Linked DNA regions of Homo sapiens: regions 1 and 3 are each linked to region 2. The links come from fine-mapping of genetic effects on gene expression. A gene starts in region 2. Each other region holds a variant in brackets. All regions are shown on one strand. Distances are between the middles of the regions.

Region 1 (7,581 bases), 53 kb after region 2:
GGTGTGGGGCACTAACTGGTCTGCAGGATAAGCAAGTGCTAGAAGCTGCAGCCCCTACCTTTGCCATGCAGCCTTCACTGGGGGTCAGCGTCAGCCCCTTGGTTGTCTGCACACTGTTTCCAGGGATGCTGTCTTTGCATCAAACTTTTGAGAATGCTTTTGGGGGGTGTATTAGTTCATTTTCACACTGCTGATAAAGACATATCCAAGACTGGGAAGAAAAAGAGGCTTAATGCACTTACAGTTCTACATGGCTGGGGATGCCTCACAATCATGGCGAAAGGCAAGGAGGAGCAAGTCACTTCTTTTGTGGATGGCAGCAGGCAAAGAGAGTTTGTGCCGGGAAACTCCCATTTTTAAAACCATCAGATCTCGTGAGACTCATTCACTATCACAAGAACACTGCAGGAAACACCCATCCCCATAATTCAATCATCTCCCACCAGGTTCCTCCCACAACACATAGGAATTGTGGGAGTTACAATTCAAGATGAGATTTGGGTGGGGACACAGCCAAACCATATCAGGGGGATAGACTTGAGGGCTGAATACAAAAACCAGTCACACCTCATTCTTGCCCACTGCCTGACTGCCAGACTCTTTCACCCAACTCAGCAAGGGAAGCCTTTGCATTTTTTTCCCACAACTAATCCCACCCCCAAAGGGTGAACAGTTGCTACTCATGAGATGGTGCTATAGGTGGGATTACTCCCAGCAACCATGGAACTTGTGTGTCTGAGAGTGACTCCTTTGAAGGGAATTATCACAATGGACTTTTCTATCCTAGAAGACAGTTGGATAAGGGACTCTTCTTTCTGGTGTCAGTCCAGCCCCTTGCTATAAAAACAGAGGAAACTTTTCAGTTGTAACAGTACACTTTGGCTTTTCGCATGGCATTGCCTGGGGTGTCATCAGCAAACACACTATCATGAAAAACTCCTAAGAGGGGAGTCAGAGAAATCTAGATGAAAGTGGGAGTTAACATCAGGAAGTTGCAAGCATGTTGCTTGATTTATATGAATAACAACAAATAACAAACAACAACACCCTGTCTTGGTCATGGGTCAATAAATACTTGGTAGCTCTATGGTGGGCTCTTTCTACTGCCATGCCCATGGCAGACATTGCTAATCAATCATGACACTTTCTGGTGACCAGTCTCACATGTTCTCAGCACAGGGCTTCAGGCAGTCACTACTAATTGATCCAAGAGGTCTGCAAGATAAAATCTGTTTGCCACCCTCTGGCCTGGGTCTTCCCCAAAGTATTTTTATATATGTGGCTCCTCTCCATAGAAATGGCTAAGCACATAGCTCAGACAGAGCCAGTGTGGGGCCAGGATGGGGCACATCAGCATCTTTAGATTGCTGTAGTCAAAGCTCTAGCTGTCCAGGAGCTGCCACTCCTCATGTCCATCTGGAATTTATCTGGAGGAAGGCATGAGCTGAGGATGAAAAAAAAAAGGCTAGGTGCTGTGGCTCATGCCTGTATCTCAGCATGTTGGGAGACTGAGGCAGGAGGATCACTTGAGACCAGGAGTTTGAGGCTGCAGTGAGACATGATCACACCACTATACTCTAGCTGGGCAACAGAGTGAGATTCTGTGTCAAAAGAAGACAAGAATAAAGAATGAAGGCAGCAGTGTGGGCATGGCCAGGATATGGAGGGCTGGGGAGGCAGTGGACCAAGCTCCCTGGCAGTGTGAGAGCCCCTCGCTGTGCCCCTAGCCACACCCACACGCCTGGTGGGCAGACCACTGGCCACTGTGGCTGTCACCATGAGTACTGAGCACTCCCTGCCTGGGGATGGCGTCTGAGAAGCCACTGGCATGGCCCCTGTCCCATCTCCCAGGCCTCACCATGGATCTGCTTTGTTTCCTGTGCCAAGCGTTCCCTGTGGCTCTGTTTTCAGGCTGTGTTTTCTCTTCTTCTCTCTCTCCTCTTCCTCCTGCTGCCTCCCACTCTGTGCTGCTGCAGTTTCCCAAGGTGAGTCTGCGGATGGACGTGCGGGCCTCGTGCTGCTGCTTGGGGCCCTCCCCTCCCCCGAGACCCCCACTCCTGCACACAAACACCCCACCCACTCTCCCAGTGGGTCAATGGGCTTTTATGTTTAGCTTGAACTTTTGGTTTGGAAAATGCTTAAACATAGACAAAAGTAGAGCCCCTAGTAAAATGAGGCCCTAATGCCCACACCAGCCTCAACTGCTATCAATTCATGGCCAGCCTCCTTTCCTCTGTCATTCGCCACATCTCCCCTACCCCAGCATGGGTTATTAGCACCCAAAATTGAGAAATACTCTGCTAAATGAAGAGAAAAAAGCAGCTCAATACACCAAAGCTCCTCTTCAGACTAAGTTCACTGGCTAATAGGAATAACCGCTCGGCAAATTCTGCTCATGTAATAGCAGCTGGGAATATTTCAGTAGGTATCGTTTTTTTTTTCTTCTTCTTCTTTTGAGACAGAGTCTTGCTGTGCCTCCCAGGCTGGAGTGCAGTGGCGCAATCTCGGCTCACTGCAACCTCCGCCTCCTGGGTTCAAGCGATTCTCCTGCCTCAGCCTCCCGAGTAGCTGGGACTACAGGCACATGCCTCCACGCCCAGTTAATTTTTTGTATTCTTAGTAAGACGGGATTTCACTGTGTTAGCCAGGATGGTCTCAATCTCCTGACATAGTGATCTGCCCGCCTCGGCCTCCCAAAGGGTATCTTCTTAAGAAAACAAACACAATACCCTTTCACACCTAAATAAAGCAGTAACAATTCCTTACTATCCACAGAGCTCACTTTTTCCCAAAGGACTCATGATCAACAATGTTTTAAAGGTTTAGCCTTCAGGCGCCCTTTCCTGCCGTAACCGTCCAGCAGGTTGGACGCACACAGGGATGGCTGCTCCCCTCTGTATGCCATCTTCCTCCTTTCTTCCTCCTTCTATCCACCCATACCAGATGCCCAACCTTCGGGGAAGCCTGCCTGGCACCTGCTCCCAAGGCTCTGCACTGGGAAAGCACACCAGACCAGTCTGTAAGCGGCTTCCAGATGTGGGTTCAGGAGCATGTCGATAGCCTTTTAGCTCCCACCCCAAATGCCCGCCCGTCATACATTCCCAGTAGACCCAGTACTCCACATTTCCTGATTCATTCTTTTGTTTCCCATTAGAAAGTCAAAGCCCTTGGGAAAAGTTGTGCTCTGATGGTAGCAGTCATTTACACCTTAGTATAAACAATGCCTCCTGTGTGCATTCTGGGCTAGGGGCACCTCCTGGAGAAATCCTGAAGTAAGCAGGTGTCTAACCATCTCTCCTTTGCTTCTTCCTCACAGGCTACAAGGAGCAGGGCATCCCACAGCAGCTGTGAGCCCACGGGAGCCGCTGGGGAGATCCAGGGGGGCCCTGTGAGGGCTGCACCAGGCAGCTTTGGGCACAAGGACCTTTACATGTTCTTTTCTGCCATTTTCTGGACTGGGGGTGGAAAGGGGGTATTTTTAAAAATATTATTTATTTTGAAAACGCATCTGCTTTTCTCAGCAGGTTGTGAGGGCTGCCAGCCCCTCCTGCTCTGGAAAGCACTGTGGGCGCAGGCACCAGAGCATCAGAGAGTGGGGTGGAGATGAGAACGCCCACAGAGAGGCTGGGATGCTCCGGCAGGCTCCAACTGGCCTTGCTGTACCCACTGCCCACCGCAAAGGCACGCCACGTCTGCTGGGCCGGGCCACACCGGGCCCTGTCTGGGTGAGCAGGGGCTCACCAAGGGGACAGGACTGTGGTAGACCCGTCCTGTGGGACCCCACCTGCCTCAAAATCTGGTGCCCCGAGTGTTTACTGTGTGGTCTCCTGGGGGCAGCACCAGGGTGTGGGTGAGGATGGCCAGGCTCCACCCTAGCGTGGAAAGGCCCACTGTGCCCACAGCTGGCCTGAGGCCTCGGGGAGAAGACCAGTCCCACAGGCGTCTCCTGGGCCTGCCTCCCTGACCGCACCCCCCGCCTCCTCGCAGCTGAAATCTGAGGGCTGGGTGTGTCGTGACCTGTGTTTTCCTGGGAAGGAGAGGAGTAGCTCCTTCCCTGGGGTGAAACTGCCAGATGTTTATACACAAAGTTATTAGACTGAAGCAGGAGTGGGCAGACTAGCAGGCTTTCACCCAATACTTAACAGCATTTCTGGCCCACATTCCTTTTTCTGAAGTCATTGGGGCCAGATGTGTCTCCGAATTGAGAAATTTTAGATTTGAGAAAGACAA[T/C]GCGATCCATTTATCGTACACTTTCTAACTTCCCGGCAGAGTGTGGAACATCTCGCCTACCATCAGGCACGTGAATATTTCTGCAGAGAAACATGTGACTAGTCCCATTAACTGGGAGCTATACAAACTGTAAATAGCCTCACCTCAGTTCAGTCTAATTTTGCCACTAAGTAACTTAGGGAAAAACTTACCATTTGAGAGCTTTTAGGGTTTCAGAATTGCAAGAACAATTGTATGGGGTTGTGGACCTTGATCTGAAAATCCTGCTTGCAAACAGATGTGTTAGAGGGTGAAATTGTCGGCATTACACAAGGACTCCTTCAGTTGCCAAAAGACCATGGGCCTCTTTAAGGAGCCCCTCTGTAAGTGATTGGGACAGGGCTAGATCCCTAATGGGGGCTAGGGGTGGGGAGAATCTAGCAGAAGTTGTCCAGGATACTGTGGATCAAGTATCAATCTGAAATTAAGAGAAATTAGATACTAAGAGGATGGACATTTACATGTCTGTTTCCTTTCCTTTCATTTTCATTCTAACATAGGAAATGCTAACAGATGGGGCTGGCCCAAAGTCAAGCTTCTGACTCCACTTGACACAGTGCCATTGGGCATGTCCCTCTCTGAAGGGCTTGTTTGTCTATCAGAGACTGTCAGAACTCCATGAGGGCAGGAGAAGGGATTTTGCAGGATGAAAGTGCTTGGGAAGTAGTGGCCACCGTTCTGGGGGTTTCAGCCCACCTACCCCATCCACCGGGCTTTCTAATCACAGTCCTGCCTGAGAAGCGGGCCCTGCTGCCCACCCCTTATCATGGATCCCTTAGCTACTGTCCGTCTTCCATTGCTGCCTGGGGCTGGGCTGCCGTTTTTGAACACCTGGCAGTGTCTTTGTCGCGTCCTGTCCTCTCTTCTTACAGACCCCAACCCAGGCCTTTGCCTTCTTCTCTCCTGTTTGGAAGCCTCTGTATCTTCAAGGTGTGGGAACAGATTTGGTTTTCTCTAAAAAGCTAGAACCTTCTGCTGTGTGCAGCAGGCATCCTCCAGGCTGGTGCTGGCTGCTCTCGAGGAAGCTGCGTCAGAGTGGAGCTGCCCCTCTACTCAGATAAAATAGCTTCAGCTGCAGGAAGCCGCCCCCTCCCATGCCCACCAGCCCACAGCCCTTCACCCCACACAGCCCCCAGAGTTTGCCCGACACCCCCTGAGTGATGACAGGTCTCAGGAGGGGGCCGCCCCCACAAATGGGAGGCGGAAGCTTATTTTCCCCGCTTGGGCTGGGGGCGGCTGCTGAGGGGGTGAAGAAGAGATAGCAATTTATGTCGCATGTTTAGTGACACAATCCAGATGCAGGTGGGACTTTCTTGAGTGGCAGGTGTCACCCTGGGTCCCGTGTGGGATGGTTTAATACAGGGGTTTGTGTGTTTGTGTGTGTGGAGGGCCACTGCGCCCCCAGATCCTCCTCTCCCCCGAGGGCTGCGTCTCTAAACCTGGGAAAACATCAGCCTCAGGAGGAGGCCCCTTTCCGGGTAACTGATGTGTGGGAGAAGCCAAGAGGCCCCTGCCTGTCTCCTGAATGAGGCTGTGAGGGTTGCCATGTGGGCGGGACCGGTTCAAAATAGCGCCCCCGCCCCTCTAAATTAGACCGTGGTCTCAGCATGATCATCTTCAGTAGATAAGGGACAGTGGCTGATTTACTCCAAATAGTTCCAGCTGGCCACTCAGACCAGGGCCAGAGTTAACTTCTCAAACACCAGCCAGCTGAAAATTAGGGTTCTCGTGCAGGCAAGTGCATGGTTGACACACAGCCCTTTGGTGACAAAGCTGGGCTTTGCCTGCATAGTGCAGACAAGGCTGTTGGTTCAGAGGCTGCAGGGCACATTCCAGGTTGGGGCCTTTTGTCGGTCGGAATTCAATAGGACATTCCCTGGCTGTGGGTGTTTAGGGCAGGAATTACAGGCTTGCAGAGAAAGTCAGAGGCAATGAGATGCTCCCAGTACCAAACTGTGACACTGGGATCAGGGTGGTCATTCCCTTGGGTCAGAGTGGGACCCTAGAGCCAGAGTGAGCTGTGGGTGGCCTGGGTGTGTCCTGTGGACGGCGGAGACTGTTGATTTGGATGTTGAGCTCTGAGTCAGTTTCAGAACCAAGGATCTCAGGCTGAGAAGGCCAGGTCCCCATGGGAGCGGCAGGAGTCTGATGGCTCTGCTGCCAGAGCCTACCCCAGCCTGCCACGCCGCTGACCTTCCCATGGTAAGGAAGGGGCAGGCAGCATGGTTCCCACCCTCAGCTGCCCCAGACCCACACATCCAGCCCCAAGAGCAGCCTCACCCAGGCACAGTGCAGGGCATTTTAGCTCCTGGGAGGGGAGATGCCTTTGTGAGTTTCAGATGTCAGAGGAGAAGCTCCGAGAGAGTAAGTCATGTGCCCCCAAACACTCAGCTCCTAAGTGGCAGGACAGGCAAGTGGCCAGGTTGGGCCGCCCCCACAGCCTGTGCCGTCCACACACTCACTACAGCACTCCCAGAAGAAGGAGCAGAATCGCATGCAGCCCAGAGCAGGTCCTGTGGAGGGGTCCTCACCCCTCAGGAGTAATAGGGTGATTATGTCACATGTTTAGTGATACAATCCCACCTGTGTCTGGATTGTGTCACTAAACATGCAACATAAATTACCATCTCTTCTCCATCCCCTCAGCAGCCGCCCCCACCCCAAGCTGGGAAAATAAGCTTCTCCCTCCCATATGTGGGGGCGGCCCCCTCCTGAGACCTGTCATCACTTAGGGGGAGTTGGGCAAAACCTCCTAGGAAGGTCCTGGACGCCTCCACCCTGCCCCACAAGGCTCCGTACTCCCACCTGCCTGGGCAGCCCTCACACCCATGCTCCCTCCTTTAGGCAGGCCCAGAAAGGTGCCCCTTCCTGAGGGTGTTGGGGGATGGCGGCAGAGAGACAGCTGGTATTAGGAGCTTCCCCATCCTAATGTGCAGGACCAAGTTGCCCGCTCTGCCAGCCAGGGGCTCCAGCCATGCTGGCACAGGCATCTCAGAGGTGTGAGATGAACTCCGCCTCATGCAGGATGCCCAGGGCTCGGAAGCAGTAAGGAGGATGCTACAGAAAGGAACTGCAGAAAGAAAAAAAGCCACATGGTTAACTTTTCCCCTGGAGGGCAAAGGGGTCCGGCTCTCAAAAAGAAAAGCCAGGCACAGATCCCAACACCAAGTGTAAGGCAGCACAAAGTGGGTCTGAAACCCCAGGACCGGGTCAAAGGCCTTCCGAAGGCCCGAGGTTCTTGAGGAGGGGAAGCTGATAGGGCCCTGGTCTTTCTGCACCAGCGTGGCTCTTTAAAATACAAAACACCCACAA
Region 2 (7,581 bases):
TGCTTCCTTGATTCTCGATTTGACTCAATATCCAACTTTTATCAAGACAATTATCTATGCTGGCCATTTATCAATGAGTCCCCGCTACCTCTCGGATGTGTTCAGACCCTTCAAACTCATTTCCTCCTTGTCTGCTATTAATACCCAGTTTTCATTTGGGAACTGTCCCTACCCCATTCTCAGTCCTTTTCAGTCAGGAAGAGTCCTCCTCCCCCTCAGCCTCTATATAAGCATGTGACCTGATTTTATCCCCTCCAGCCCATCTTCCACACTGTGAACAAATATATCTCATAATGGTGGTGGTTTTAAAGCCTAGGCCCAAGTCTTTGACACCCCTCCATAGAGAGGCGGGGTGTCCCCCATGAAATCTGGGCAGGCTTGTGACTGCATCGACCAGTAAAGCCCTGCAGAAGTGACACTGTGTGACTTCCAAAGTTAGGGCAGAAAAGTCCAAGTCCACACAGCTTCCACTGGTCCTGCAATGTTCATTCTCTGGGGGCCTCCTCTCAGGAAATTCCCTCTCAGAAGCCAGCTGTCATAGTGTGAAAAGTCCAAGTCACGTGGGGAGGCCATGTGTAGGCGCTTTGCTGACCCATCCTAGTTGACCCAGCTTTCAAGTTACCCCAGTCCAGGCAGGCTGAGATTCCTGAGAATCTTCTCAGAAGTGGATCCTCTAGCCCCAGCTGTTCCAGCTATCAGCCATTTCAGTCTCCCGAGCTGAGGCTCCAGATACAAGGAGCAAAGAAGAATTATCTTGGTGTGCTCTGTCCAAGCTCCTGACCACAGAATTTGTGATCAGAAAAAAATGGTTGTGTTAAGCTGCTAAATTTGGGGGTAATTTGTGACACAGTGATAGTAACTGGAACACTTATGCCACACCCCTGCTTAAAATGTTCCAGTGATTCTGCATCACCACCACCGAGATGAAGTCCAAATTCCTTTGCCATTCAGTACTAGATGCCTGTCCACCCCACCAGATCCATCTCCTGTCTCTGCCCACACAAGCCCTAGTGCCAGCCACACTGCAATTCCTGGAATCATCCCTACTTCCCTGGGCTCCCATGCCTTTGTATATTTTGTTGCTCTGCCTGGATGTCTTTCTGACATCCAAGATATTCAGCAAATCATCTGGAAAACTGGGGGATGCAAATCCACTGACGTCCCTGAAATCCTTTTTCTCCAGGAGGAATGATTGACTGGCCCTAAGACAGTTCAAGTGCTCTGCAAAAGAATATTCACAGAATGTGGGTTATTTTCTAGGTCTCTGAATAAAATACTGGTTATATAGAATTGATTCTGGAGCCAGATTGCCTGCATTCAGCTGCCAGCTCTACCACTGATTAGTGGGGGACTTTGTGCAGCCTGTTTAACTTCTCTGTGCTTCAATTGCCCCATCTGTAAAATGGGGTAATAAATAATCCTTACTTTGTAGAGTTATGGTAAGGATTAAAAGAGTTAAAATGTGTAAAGGGTTTTTAGAATGATGCCTGGCAGAGAGTGCTTGGGTAAATAAGTGTTTGTTGAAAATAAAACAAATCTGCAAATAGTTAACTGTAGTCATTGCTCAAGTCCCTTTGAGTATCGCCTTCTTTGGGACACCTCCCCGAGGCCTCCCCCACGCTAGCTGGCTTCACAGATAGGTCCATGTTGTCGCAGCACCTCCAGCACATCACAGCTGCAACATTCCTCACTGTTTCTGTAAGTCTATCTTTGTAGTTGTCAGTATCTCTCAGCTCATTTCTTAGATTCTTGAAGGCAGAGGCTGGATTTTACTCATTTCTCTCTCCCTGGAATCTAAGTCTTAGTAGGCCTTCAATAATTGTGTATTAAATGGAAGCTTGCTATGATTTTAACCAACACAGTAACTCCAGGCCAGAAAAGGCTAAGCGAGTTCTTCTAAGCCATACAGGTTTTAGTGGCTGAACAAAGACTAAAATTTTTAACCCTGTTCTTCTGACTGCCAAACCTAAGCTAATGACTCGTGTGTGTGTGTATCTGTGTATGTGTACACACGCATGTGTGTGTCCACCAGTATCATCACTAACCCCTGGCCATTTGCTTTTAAAATTATTTTATTCAGAGACTTATACAATAAGTATAAGTATACAATAACCCATGTTCTTTTAGCCTCTTCTGAGACCCTGGGTTGTTTATAATAATAATCACTATTATTCCTGAAGGGAGGCTATTGCACCCTTCCAATTATTCAGACGATTTGCTGACTGTCTGGATAATTCCGAAGCCTTTAACCCCTCCCTAACGTTAGAGGCGGTAACTTTCATCCGTTTACTTTTTCCAGGTGCGGAGGCGAAGCAGCCTTATTCAGAAAATCGAATTCAAACAGGACCTCAAGCTGCCGGCTGTTGCTTCTACCAACTGCCCCATTATTAACGCCAGACGGCGCTGTGTCCTCACTGGCTCTTTAACCACCACGTCGGGCTCACAGAAGGCTCAGGTTTCCTCCAGTATAGTTCAGGGGATGGTGAACGCTTCCCAACAAGCCTGCAACAGGCGCATTTCTTTCTGCTTTTGGTGCGTGTGTGTAGGGAAGTGTCCCATCTTTTAACTAGTCTTGCGGAGACCTGGCCTGGTGTTTGCAAATCTGTTTCCTCTATTATCGATCCGATCTCTGGATTGCTTTTTCTCTGACACTTGAAACAAATTCACTCCTATATATTTTTTAAGTGATTTTTTTTTTTTTTTTTTTTTTTTACAAAATAGAGCTGGGGCGGGGGGGGGGGGGTCTCGCTACGTTGCCCAGGCTGGTTTCGAACTCCTGGGCACAAGTAATTCTCCCACCTTGGCCTCCCAAAGTGGGGAATACAGACGGGAGCCACTGCGCTCGCCCCAAACAAAATCATTTAAATCACAATGCACTGAAGGCCGACTAGGTGTCAGGCGCCGCGCGGTCCGTCCCTTGTCCCCATGTCCCTGGCCAAAGGCTTGCTCTAGATCAGGGGACTCAGCCTCGAGGCTTTCCCGACGGTGTCAGCCAAGCACACACTCCCAGTTCGCAGGGCTTCGTGGTCAAGGTTCCTAGTTCACCTGTCTGGGAGGGCGAGGTGTGTCCACCCCTTCCAGCACCTGGGCAAACAGCTCCCTTTGCGGTCCTCTTCCACTGCTTTCCCTCCGCCCTGATTTTCCATTCCTTGTGAGCGGTGGTTTTGGTTGGGGGGAGGGGGCGGGGAAGGGGCCTGGCGAGGAGGGGCGTCAGAGCGCTGTCACCGGGTGTCGCGCCGCCCTCCCCGCCCCTCCGCCGGGCGTGTGGGGACGCCGGAGGGCGGGAGTCTCCGCGAGCCGCGCGGCGCACGGAGCACGGCGGCCGCCTGAGCTCGGCGCGGAGCCCGGAGCCCGCAGCCGACAGTCTCCTGCTCCCGTACGCTGGGCGCCAGCTCCGGCCGTGCTGCCCGGCTGCCTGAGAGCGCGCCCGGCCATGGAGCCCTCGCACAAAGACGCCGAGACGGCGGCGGCGGCGGCGGCGGTGGCGGCGGCGGACCCCCGGGGGGCGTCCTCGTCCAGCGGGGTGGTGGTGCAGGTCCGCGAGAAGAAGGGCCCCCTGCGCGCCGCCATCCCCTACATGCCCTTCCCCGTGGCCGTCATCTGCCTCTTCCTCAACACTTTCGTGCCGGGACTGGGTAAGACACGGCTGCCGCGACCCTTGCGACCCCCACCCCGCCGCGGGAGGGCGTGGGGGGAGAGAAGGGCGCGGCCGGAGACCTCCTGGCGGGGCCGCGCGCTCCAAGTGCTGCGACCACGCGCCACCGCCCGCTCCTGGCGTCCCCGGGCAGGTGGCAGAAGCGCGTGGAGTGTGCACCCCAGAGGGGAGAGGCTGCGCTGGGGTCTCCGACCCGCAGGCGGGGCCCCAAAGAGCCGGAAACTTTGCGGCCAATGTTGGAGCCCGCAGCGGCGGCCGGAATGGCTCTGCCGGCTTCGGAGTAGGGCTCCCGTCCCGGCGCCCCGATTTCTGCTCCTTCTCTCCGTCGTGTGCATCCGTCCGCGAGCCCACTTCCCCGAGAGGAATGGGGTCGGATCAGAATGAGCTCTAGGGCCTCGGCGGCGAGGATCAAACTCCCGGGCGTCGAAGTCAGCTGAGCCGGGGAAAGAGGACGAGCCGGGCTAGATATACCTGCAGCCCCCTTTGGTTCGCGGAGTGCGGACCGCGTGGGGACGAGAACTCTAGCCAGAGTCTCCTCCGCCTCATTCAGGGGTACCTGCACTTCCGCCAGCACCCCGCAGGGCGCCAGGGGGATGGGGGATGATTTTATTAGTTTGGATGCATGTGGCCAGAGATGAACCCATAGCTCCCTCGGATCCCTTCTGTTCCTGAGAAGTAGAGAGTGCGCCGATGTAATTCTGTGCAGGACTCCGGCAGCCGGCAGGGGTTCTGGTGGCATCTATGTCCCACGTTTTAAAGCAGAGGCCCCTTACAGAGATGGTGCAGGAGGGTGAATGGAGGCAGGGAATGAGAAGTTTTCCTGACCCTCCCTCCCTTAACTCCACCCCCAGGTCTCTGCCTGCACGCCCCTCCCCTCCTCCAGCTTGGCACTGGCTGCTCCTGCGTGCTGGGAGGTGCCCCCCTCTCCCGTGCCCGCCCGAAGAACCAGGCGCCCCAGTGCCCTCTCCGGGAGAAAGCGTGCCCCTGTCGGCGAGCCTGTTGCCAACGTATGGTTCCAAGTTCCCAAGAGCAGAGGCCAGCTGGAAGGGGTTTTCAGTTTGACTTTGGCCTTTCTCACGGTCTCCTCGCTCTTCGCCTGCTTAGCAGGGGCCTCTGCTGCGGTGACAGCCAAGGCCACAGCCACCCACGCAGGACCCGTTCACTTTCCCCTCCGAGCTTACTTGTCTTTCTACCCTAAGGGGCTGCTGCGGCCAGAGCAGCCTATCTGAGCAGTAAGTTAGGTGGCCTTTAGTTGGGCTTCTCTCTTCTGGGGTGCCTCCAGCAGCCTGTCCCCCTGGCTGGTGTCATCAGATCAGCTCTCTTTGCACATTTAGACACTGCAAGGAGGCCAGCTGGTGTTAATCTAGTTTTATCAGAAATTCTCACCTGCTGGAGTAAAAAGAGACTGCCTGCCCCTCCCTCTGGCGGATATGAAGATCCTCCTGAGCCAGCATGCATCTTGATCCACCTTTTTTTTTTTTTTTAAGTGGTGAGGTAAACGCCACCCTATGGTCTTTTGAGGAAACAAATGCATTGGTGCCAGGTGAGAGGGGCTGCACCAAGTCACTGCTGCACGAGGAAACCACCTTGTGGGAGACCAGCCCCAGGAGACAGCAGCTGCCCACGCATGTACCTGTGTGTACCCTCCCTGGTCTCCCTTCACTAGGTGCCTTTCCCAGCCTTAGCCCTGCTGCATTGACAGCATCGGCTGCAGGGCACCGTCCATTCCGCTGACCCCTGGCTCCTTGCCCTGGGGATCCAGCTTTTCCCTTTGTGAGATCAGAATCCTATGGGATTTTTGTGAAACAAACAAATAAACAAACAAACAAAACAAACCATTATAAGAAACCAGGAGAAAATAAAGGGAAGATATGCAAACCACAAAAGTAATAAAACAGGTGAGCTGTAGGTGCACAGATTTCTGAATTTTCAGTGACATAATCCTGGCTTTTTTTTTTTTAATTTTGCTTTGGTTGCTATTGTACAGTTTACTGGGTGCACAGGCTCCTGCTCCTCTCCACACGGAATGAGGGATTCCTGATCCTTGGTGGTGGTTCTCATCTGTAAGTCAGGCACACCTGTCTCTTGGCGTTGCTGAGAGGATGAAACGTGATTACATAAAGCCCAGCGTCTGGTGCATAGGAAGCTCTCTGGGGATGGTGGGTCCATCTTGCTCTTCTGCAGAGCTGAGCACTGGTCCCATCTCTGGGTGGGGGTCGCTGCAGCCAGGGCAGCACTGCCCTCTGGACCACTCAGAAGCAAAGGCTCTTTGAGTGCTTTTGATCCCTCTGCTCCCCTCTCCACCTGCAGTGGAGTCCCAGGCAACAAAGCAGCTCAGACCAATCTTGCAGGTGGTTTTATTGCCCCCCTTCCCCAGGAGTGGTTTAAATGGCCCCAGCTCTTGGAAATCTGCCACTTGGCCCAGATCCACTTCTCCAAGGCCTCCTGGCTTATCTGAAGCTCCCGGGACAACTGAATATTCATGGCTGATTCTGCTCTTTGATGAAATGCAGCTTCTTTCAATTCACTCATTCATTTGACCAACACAGGCACCTACCACATGCCAGGCATTGACTGGGGTTGTGATGATGAATAAATCAGTCAGGATGTCATAGACTGCTGAGGAAAATTGAGGCCAACTTTGTCTGAATTTGATAAGTGCTAGGATGGCAGCAGGAACAGAGTGTTGTAGCAGAAATTCTTCCTGGGGGCGAAGGAAGGGGGCTCAGAGAAAGCCTCCCTGAGGGAGTAGTGTTAGGTTAGAACTTGCTGAGAAAATCTATCACGTGTCCTCAGCACTTGCCATCCTCACTAAACTCCCATTCTGGAAACTGCCCAGACCACTGGCCCAAAGATCTTTTCTTTTTTTCTGGAAACTTCCTTCCCTGCAAGTCCTCTCCTGGATTGCAGATTGGATGAGAGGGCAGTTTTTGCTGAATGAAGGCTCGTTTTTTATTTTTATTTTTTCCCTTTGATGTAGGTGTCTCAGGTCCATCCAGTCTGCAGGACCAGCTGTGGAGAAGCCCCATCCTTAAAATTCCCCAGTGCCTTCTCCACCCAAGCAACAGTGCTCTCGGGATAACACTCATATCATGAGTGGGATGTGCTGTCTCCTAGGGAGTGGCTGGAAAGGAGAAGTGATTTATGATCACTCCAACTCCTCACTGAAACAATGAAAAACAATTTTTACAAGTGGACATTAGTAAAGAGAGTCACCTCTAGTCCTATTCAGTGAAACTCTACTAATAAAGACCACCGTTGGTACCTTCATGTTCCAACAATTAGGGTGTTTATAAGTATATACACGATTATTCATACCTGTAATGAAAGTTCATTGTTATGCCCCAACATGGCCAGAGAGTTTGTCTAGTGGTCAGGGGTATAATTATACTTTTATATTTAAAAATTATATCTATCTTGATTTGGTGAAACGAAAATGTTGATATCTCAGTGACACGGAAAGTCGAAGGGAGGAGGACCTCCATTGACCTTTAACCACTCCATTGGACTCAGGACATCAGATAGGGACAATTTATCCCTAACACACTGCCTACTCTTTGATGCTGCTAAAGTCTTGCTTGCTCAATAAAAGCACCACAGGCTGGCTCTGCTTCTTCTCTCTCTCTTTCCTCTAGACCCAAGGCTCAAACTGATGATTAATCATGTCCTACCTCCTGGCATCTTTTGTATCATAGATTTTTTGTTGCTGTTTTGAGACTTTATTCTTTGTCTATCTGAGTAGATCTTAAACTCCTGGGGAGCAGCAACTATTTTAAATGTCTTCTTGAAAGAGCATGTTATCCACAAATACATATAGACTAGAATTATACTCCTGGAATAGGCATTAGAGATCATCTGGTCCAAAGCCTTTATTCAATATAAAAGTGAAGTAGGCCTGAGGATGCAAGGACCAAGGAAGTTTACAG
Region 3 (7,581 bases), 26 kb before region 2:
CATAGCTCTCTATAAAGAGGAGCCTTGGAGCTCCCCTAAGTTCTCCTTTTGGGGTGCTTGTCATTTGTCCTGGCAGGAAATGGCTTGACTAGATGCCTGCTCAGCATCTGAAAAGGCTGACAGCTGTGCACAAGGAGACAGCACTTTGCCATGTTCACCCAAGGAGAAGGGAAGGGCAAAGTCTTTCAACTCAACCCCTTCACAGTGTGCCTTTCTGCCTTACGATTTGCTTTAAGAGCTCTCATTATTTTATTTAATGCAATAACACACACTGAATTCTTACTAGAACCAGCATTCAATCACGGCTCAATGTCCAAATTTATCCCTGAGCTGGCAAGACTCCCAAGCCAGGTGTACGTGCGTCCCATGCAATGCTTGACTCTCTCTGGAGTGATCTTGAGAGGTAAGCCAGGGACAGTGCGGGAGGAAGGAAGGGGACACAGTGTGTCCTGGGTATTATCATCTGCTGCATTATGAGGAGACCTGGACTGAGAGAAGGGAATCCATTCCTCAGAGGCTGGAACGTGGCTTACCTTCTTTCCACTCCTGCCGTAACCACTTCAGTCCCAGGACAGCAGTGTCTGCAGGAACCGCTGTCCTACCACAGGGGGAGTCCCTGTGCCTCTGTAATTCCTGTGACTCCTGCCTTGGCTCCTGGTCTGCTGTCCATTCCCAGGGCACATGCTGGACCCTGTGTTTGTTCCCAGAGCAGCTCCTCTTCTGAAATCTTCACTTCCAATGCTTCACTTTCTGACCACAGTCCCACAATATGCCTTCATAGCTGAGCCCTGCTGGAGAAAAATCAAGTGGCCTGTAGATTGGCCTGGGGCCCAGCCTCAGCGGGGCATTTGGTGTCACTCAGCAACCACTTGACCTGGTCCTCTGAATGATTCCCCTTAATAACCGTCCACACCGTCACCATTTTCTTCAAGCTCTTCGCCCCAATGTTGCCCCCTCTGTCACCTACTTTAGTGAGCAAATTGCTGTGCGTTGGGTGCCCCATGTACTTGCCACATGGGTTTATAATGATTTATTTATGTATTTGTTTCCCCAACTCGACTGCATCCTTCTTTGGGTCAGGATCTGTCTCCTATTCATCTTCCTTTCCCTGTTGCCTGATCCAGCACCTGCAACCTCCTGTGGCTTAATCACTGTTGCCAAGTGAATAAGAATAGATCAAGGGGTCAAGGCAAAGGCTCATAGCGGAGGCTGGCTCAGGGAGATGACCCACACACTTGTTCCTGTGAGCTAGGAGGAGCTCAAAGGGCCTCCAGGGACCTCTATGCTGCTCAGCTGGCATTGAAATAAGAGAAGACCAGTAACTGCTCTCTGCATTCTAAAATCCTATGTTGGGAGATGAAACGCAAAATCTGAGGTCATTCAGTCCTTTACAGTGCGGTTTCCATGGCAACTGTGGCCAAGGCCTGGGTAGGGGCAGCTGTGCCTCCTGAGGCCAGGCCCAAGTCCCACCTGTGTGTAGAAGAAGGGCACCCTCGTCCTTTCTGCATCGGGCAGGTGTACATGGGTTTCCAAGTCTTTTCTCTCCCGATTCACACACCCCGAGCAGCAGTGGAGCCATGAACTTCCTGCAGAGTTGAGAGCTTGGGAAAGCGGGGCAGGACAGACTAACCCTGAAGGACTGAGCTGCACCCACACACCCTGGACTCCTCAGCCCACCCACAGGTGCCACCATCCAAAGTCACTTGACCTGGGTGGACTGGGAATAATTCCGCCTCTTTCTTCTGGGAGTGGGGGTTTGAGGGAGTTGTGTGAAGACAATTTTTGTGTGTTTCTCACCACTCTCCTGCCCCTCTGCGATATCACTGGGCTTTATGACCAAGAACTTGCTCTTCTGGGTCTCAGTTTCCTCATCTGCACAATGAAAGGGCCACACTCAATGTTAGCAGGTCCTGGCCAGGTGTGGTGGCTCACGCCTGTAATCCTAGCACTTTGGGAGGCTGAAGGGGGCAGATCACCTGAAGTCAGGAGTTCGAGAGCAGCCTGGCCAACATGGTGAAACCCTGTCTCTACTAAAAATACAAAAATTAGCTGGGTGTGGTGGCATGCACCTGTAGTCCCAGGTACTTGGGAGGTTGAGGCAGGAGAATCGCTTGAACCCGGGAGGAGGAGGTTGCAGTGAGCCGAGATCGTGCCACCACACTGCAGCCTGGGCAACAGAGCGAGACCCTGTCTCAAAAAAAAAAAAAAAAAAAAAAGAAAGGGAAAGAAAAAAGGAAAACAAAAATAGCAGGTCTTAAATACACTGCGTTTCTGTGTCTGCCAGCTCCTACCACCTTCTCTTCATACCCCCTCTTCACTTCCCTCTCTCCTCCTCTGTCTCTCCACCCCCTTCCTCCTCATCTCCCTCCTCATCCTCCTCCATATCTCCTCCCCATCCTCCTTACTTGTCTTCACCTGGTTCCTGGTGACCCAGACCCCGTCGCTCTGCCTGATGGCCTCTTGGTTTCTCTGGAGCAAGGTCCTGGGAGCCTCCTTGACTTTCTCCTGGGCCTTTGAACCCTGCCCTAGTCCATCCCTGAATAGAGATGGGAGTAGGGAGAGAAAGTGGCAGACCAGGCTGCTATGTGGCATGCTTGCCCCCACATTATGGAGCGGAGATCTCTGGGTCTGTTCTCCAGGTGCTCCCTGCACCCAGCCCAGCTCAGCCATGCCTCTTTCTCTTGCCTTCTGGGACTCATCTACTAGGCCTTTTCCTTATCATTTCCATAACAAGCTCTTTGCCTCTGCTTCCTCCTCAAGCTAACTTTCCTTCTCCCACCTTTCTGTCCTGGCTCTCCCTCCCAGCAGTCTAGCTCCACCTTTCACTCCTTAAGACTGCGATTTGGTGGACAACCCACAACTGCCCTGAACTGAGTCCTTTGAAGGAGATTTGAAGTCTACAAACTGCCAAACTCAATCACTTGACTCAGTTCTCATCCTTCCCATGGGGGTGGCATCTTGTTTTCATCACGGAACACTGTGTCACATAGTTCACTGAATGCTGGGAAAGTGCCCAAATGCTTTGTGGGGCCAGGCACGGTGGCTCACATCTGTCATCCCAGCACTTTGGGAGGCCAAGGCAGGTAGATCACCTGATGTCAGGGGTTTGAGACCAGCCTGGCCAACATGGTGAAACACTATTTCTACTAAAAATACAAAAATTAGCTGGGCGTGATGGTTCATGTCTATAATCCCAGCTACTTGGGAGGCTGAGGCAGGAGAATTGCTTGGACCTGGGTGGCGGAGGTTGCAGTGAGCTGAGATCATGCCACTGCACTCCAGCCTGGGTGACAGAGCTAGACTCTGTCTCAAAAAAAAAAAAAAATGATTTCTGGGATATTCTTGTTGCTATTCCATCCCAGGCTCATCCCATTCTTTTCTGCCTGTGGTTTTCACCAGGGCATTTTCTCTGGAGAACCGTGTCCTAGGAAACCCTGCTGGCTCAAGCCCACGTAGACCCTCCCGTGGACCACCAAGGCTCAGAGCAAGGACTTCTCATTCCCTTGTGCATCATTAAAAAGCACTGCTTTTCCTGCTACAGTCATTACAGGCTGAACTCTTCTAATTTTTTTTTAACATCTTGAGATAT[A/G]TTTACATGGGCCAGAGTAGTTTCTTTTTGTCTTTATCTCTTGCTTGATCTTTTACTTCTATATATGTTAGTTATCAAAACAATGAATTAATTCATTAGTATGAATTGATAGCCTCAACTGATAGCCAGTTAGGTTCTTTTAAAAAAAGTATCATTATAGACTCATGGATTTATATATATTTGACCTATTTCAATACACTGCTGTTACTGTCCTTATTGGTACTCACATTTTCACATCTCTGGCCAGCGGGAGCCTCTTCACCCTGGCTCCTGAGACCATTTTACGACTCTATCAAATCAAATTTGTCTTTGACTGTTTCCTCTCTATCTTCTGTGACAAGCTGCTCCAGGCTATATGATTTTCAGGGGCTCTGCTGCCAGTGATGGTTGGATGGTTGGATGACGAGTATTTTTTAAAGTTCCTTACATTATCCCTTTCCCCAGGGCAGGGAGAAAGTGTGGAAAGGTGGGAGGCAAATCTCTTCTGTGTTTCAGGCTTACCCAGGAGGATTGAGCTGGATTCCTTTCGACTGGGGAAAATGACAAGGCTCCCACCCAAAAGGGGGGCAAAGAGGGGTTTCCCCAGCAAAGGTGAAGGGTTAGGTTTGGGAGTTTCCAAGGGTGGCAGGGAACAAGCCATGTTTCCTTGTGGAATCTGGGAGCCGCCAGACCTCTGCTGGGGTGGCCTGCGGATGCAGGAGGAGGCTACTCTCAGCGAGCTGTGGACCTGGGCTCCTCAAGGGGATCCCTATTCTCACGGTTATCTGGGCTGCCCGTGGACCATCCCAGTCTTGGCAACAGGCAACTTAGAAACAATTCCATGATGGAAGGCTGGAGGCCTTTCCTGGTTTTCTACAAGTTCAGCTCTCTAATCTTGCACAGCCCTTGGGAGAGGGAAGCTGACTTTGATATCACGCTGGAAAATGGGACCCAGAGAAGGTTTAATTTAGTTTAAGCGAAGTCATGAGGCAGTTCTCATATCCAAGGACAGTTGTCTGTGGCCATGTCCCCAATTTTGAGACACACCCTTTAACTTAGGACATTTTGTTCCCTAGTCCTAGGTCTCTGGGGAACAGGAGGCTGTCCTTTCTCCAGATGTGGAGGATAGGGAGAGAAGAATCTGCTGTTTAAAGCCCTTCATAAATGCTAGCAATTATGATTTCCCTCTATGCCCCATTGCCCAAGAACTCCAGGCTCACCTCTGCTTCCCTTTCTTGTCCCACTCACCACCCCCTCCTCTGTCACACAGTTTATTGAGCTCCATCCACTCGGAACCATTTGCAGACTGAGGAATATGTCATGTGCTCTCTTACCTCTGGGCCTTGGCACATGCAGGTATATCAGTTAGGATTAGGTTCAGCTGCAAATTACAACAACAACAAAACAAACAAGTAGTTTAAATCTGACATTTATTTATTTGGCATGTGAAAGAAGCCAGAAGGGTGGCTCTCCAGGGCTGATATAGCAGCTTCACAGTTGTCAGGATGCAAGCTCTTCTTAACTTTCTGCTCTACCATACTTTATAGTTGGTTTCTATCTCAAGTTTGCTTTATGACACAAAATAGCTGCTGGCACTCCAGCCATCAAGTCCACATTCCAGGCAGAAAAATAGAGGAACTTGGTTGTGTCTCCTAGTTGAGTCAGAACTCCTTCCAAGAAACCCTGTAAACTTGTATTTATATCCCATTATTCATTGCTAGCTACAAGGGAGTCTGGGAAATGTAGCCCTTTAGCTAGAAATATTGCCTAGCAGGATAAAATGATGTTCTAATCATCAGGAAAAAGAGATAGATAGATATTGGGTAGAAGCTAGTAATCTCTGCAATCAATGAATGTCCCTTCTCTTTGTTCAACTTGCTCTATTGACCCTTTTGCTCTCAGCCTAGATAGAGCTTCTTTTAGGAGACAGGCCTCTTGTAGGTACTTTCCTTGTCCCAGACTTCCTCCTTATCACACTGTATTGCTCCTGCTGCTCCACCTGTCAGTCTCCTCCCTTGAACATGAGTGCCTGGAAGGCAGGGACTGTAGGTGCTCAATAAAGGCTTATGGAGTGAATGCTGGGAGAAGGCTGGGGCAGCCTCATCCAGGAGCATGTCACACTATTTCTCCCTGTGCAGAATGCTATTATAAACTCCAATTGATCTTGCTATGTTTTCATTTCTATGTCATTACCACAAATATGTACCCAAACCTTGTTTTTGAAAGAAAAAACATCTCTTCCCCAAACCACCTGGGATGGCCCATGATTTGTACCTTCACAGCTTTGGAGAATGGAATATAAAAAACAGCATAGCGTCCAAACGGATCTGGACGTGGTCTGTAGGGCAATAAAATAAAAAGTAATTTATAAGTGGCAAGAAATTTGAACTGAAGCATAATTTTATTTTGTGAGGAAAGCCAAGCTGTTCCATATAATTTGTCATTCAAACGGGGCTCTCTGACTTGCTCAAGCCAAAGGCTCCTAACTCCTTCCCATCTCCGACTGACTCCTTCTGATTTAATTCTAAGTGGCCGAGCTCCCGGTATCTCCAGTAAAGATGTTTGCTATCTCTTGGCTTAGGCAGGTTGTCTATACTCTTTGTAAATGGCTGATCTGAGATGAAAAATTTTGGCCGTATTATCCTAGAAATGTGCTCCTAGAAAAACTCTATCAGTAGTTTTCAATTCTCTATCACTGTTTACCAACCCATTCCAAAATTTAGTTGCTTAAAACAACAATTTATTATTTCTCAAGATCCTGTGGTTTGGCTGAGCTTAGCAGCGCAGCCCTTCTGTTCCTTGTGTATTGCTTAGGTCACTCCTGTGGTTGCCTTCAGCTGGGAGCTTGCCTGTGATTGGAACATCCAAAATGGCCTCTCCTCATACCCCATTTTCCATGGTGTGATTATTCCACATTGCATGCCGGTATCAAAACATCTCATGTACCCCATAGATATACACACCTACTATGTACCCACAAACATTAAACATAAAAAAATAAGGAAAAAATGGACTACCCTTTTCCAGGGCCTCTCTCCACATGGCCTTGCACCATTCAGTAGCCAAACTTGAGCTTCCTTCAGCAATGGCAGCTGGCTTCCAAGGAGGAACTTCCTAAGGGGGCAAGCCCAAATTTGCAAGTGCTTCCAAGGCTTCATGCCTGCTAATATCCCATTGGCCAAAGCAAGTCATGAGGATGATCCAAGAGTCAATGAGAGAGGGGAATACACAGTCCACAAATACTAAGTGACATGTTTCCTTGACCACCAATATAATAATCTACACAAGTGCCCTCTAAGGAGAATGGAACAGGAGAGGAGAAGACTAGCCTGGGGTGAGCTGCATTCCTTTTAGTATAAGTTCCACGACTTCATGACTTATTCTTTGAGCTCCAGAGGCAGAGCCAGTGGATGAGGGCTGCAAGGTAGCAGGTTTGGATTTTAATAGGAGCTGCCTAACAGTGAGACACCTGCTTTGTGAGACAGTGAGCCACCCATTGTGGGGAGTATTCAGAGAGAATCTAGATTGCCTCTTGGTGGGAATGTGTAAGGAATTCTTGCCCGAGCTAAGAGCTGGACTAAATAATGGATAAGCTTTCTTTTAACTCGGAGTCTATTTAAAGCTCTCCTAGGCAGGCCAAGAACATTTGTCTCACAGATAACAAATTCATGTCAAGCCACTTGCAAGGTGGGGCGAAGAACGTAGTCCTCCAGGTGGAGAAGATCCCAGCTGTGGAAGGGACTCTGTCTGCGGATTGGGAACATTCTTTGTGCTCTCGTTGATTGACAGCTGCACTGGGGTTGAGAGGGCGGGACTTCCTGGCCCAACCAGCCGTGAGGGAAACAAACAGGAAAAGGTGACTGGGTCCTGGTCAGCACCGTCCAAACACGCTTCCCACAAGTACTTCAGCTCCACACAGCCCTTCAGGGGCTGCCAGGGAAAGAGGAGGCAGGGGCGGGGGAGGGTAAGGGAGGCTGTCTGGGGAGAAGCCACTGACCTTGCACTCCATCAGA

Alleles and levels. Alleles are on the strand shown, and positions count from the first base shown. SD is a standard deviation of normalised expression in the study named. Not every link is listed here.
With allele T in place of C in region 1, the expression in tibial nerve of the gene that starts at base 3,293 in region 2 is higher (large effect, 0.85 SD a copy in GTEx).

What was found.
Region 1: its variant is fine-mapped to the expression of STUM in tibial nerve (GTEx, PIP 0.98).
Region 3: its variant is fine-mapped to the expression of STUM in tibial nerve (GTEx, PIP 0.95).

What each region holds. Positions count from the first base shown.
Region 1 is chr1:226,598,690-226,606,270 of GRCh38, forward strand. It overlaps STUM (stum, mechanosensory transduction mediator homolog), which reads left to right. Exons shown (of 4, transcript NM_001003665.4): 3 at 1,977-1,985; 4 at 3,317-7,581. The coding sequence ends at 3,351. Among named protein-coding and RNA genes, the nearest start is that of STUM, 54 kb to the left of the region's middle. RefSeq lists enhancers at 3,277-3,813, 3,814-4,349, 5,559-6,238, 6,239-6,918. The variant T/C (reference allele first, on the strand shown) is at 4,231.
Region 2 is chr1:226,545,472-226,553,052 of GRCh38, forward strand. It overlaps STUM (stum, mechanosensory transduction mediator homolog), which reads left to right and starts at 3,293. Exons shown (of 4, transcript NM_001003665.4): 1 at 3,293-3,635. The coding sequence starts at 3,434. RefSeq lists a silencer at 2,277-2,571.
Region 3 is chr1:226,519,580-226,527,160 of GRCh38, forward strand. LOC105373115 (a long non-coding RNA gene) reads right to left here and starts at 1,221. Exons shown (of 3, transcript XR_949221.2): 1 at 534-1,221. RefSeq lists enhancers at 682-1,376, 1,377-2,069. The variant A/G (reference allele first, on the strand shown) is at 3,590.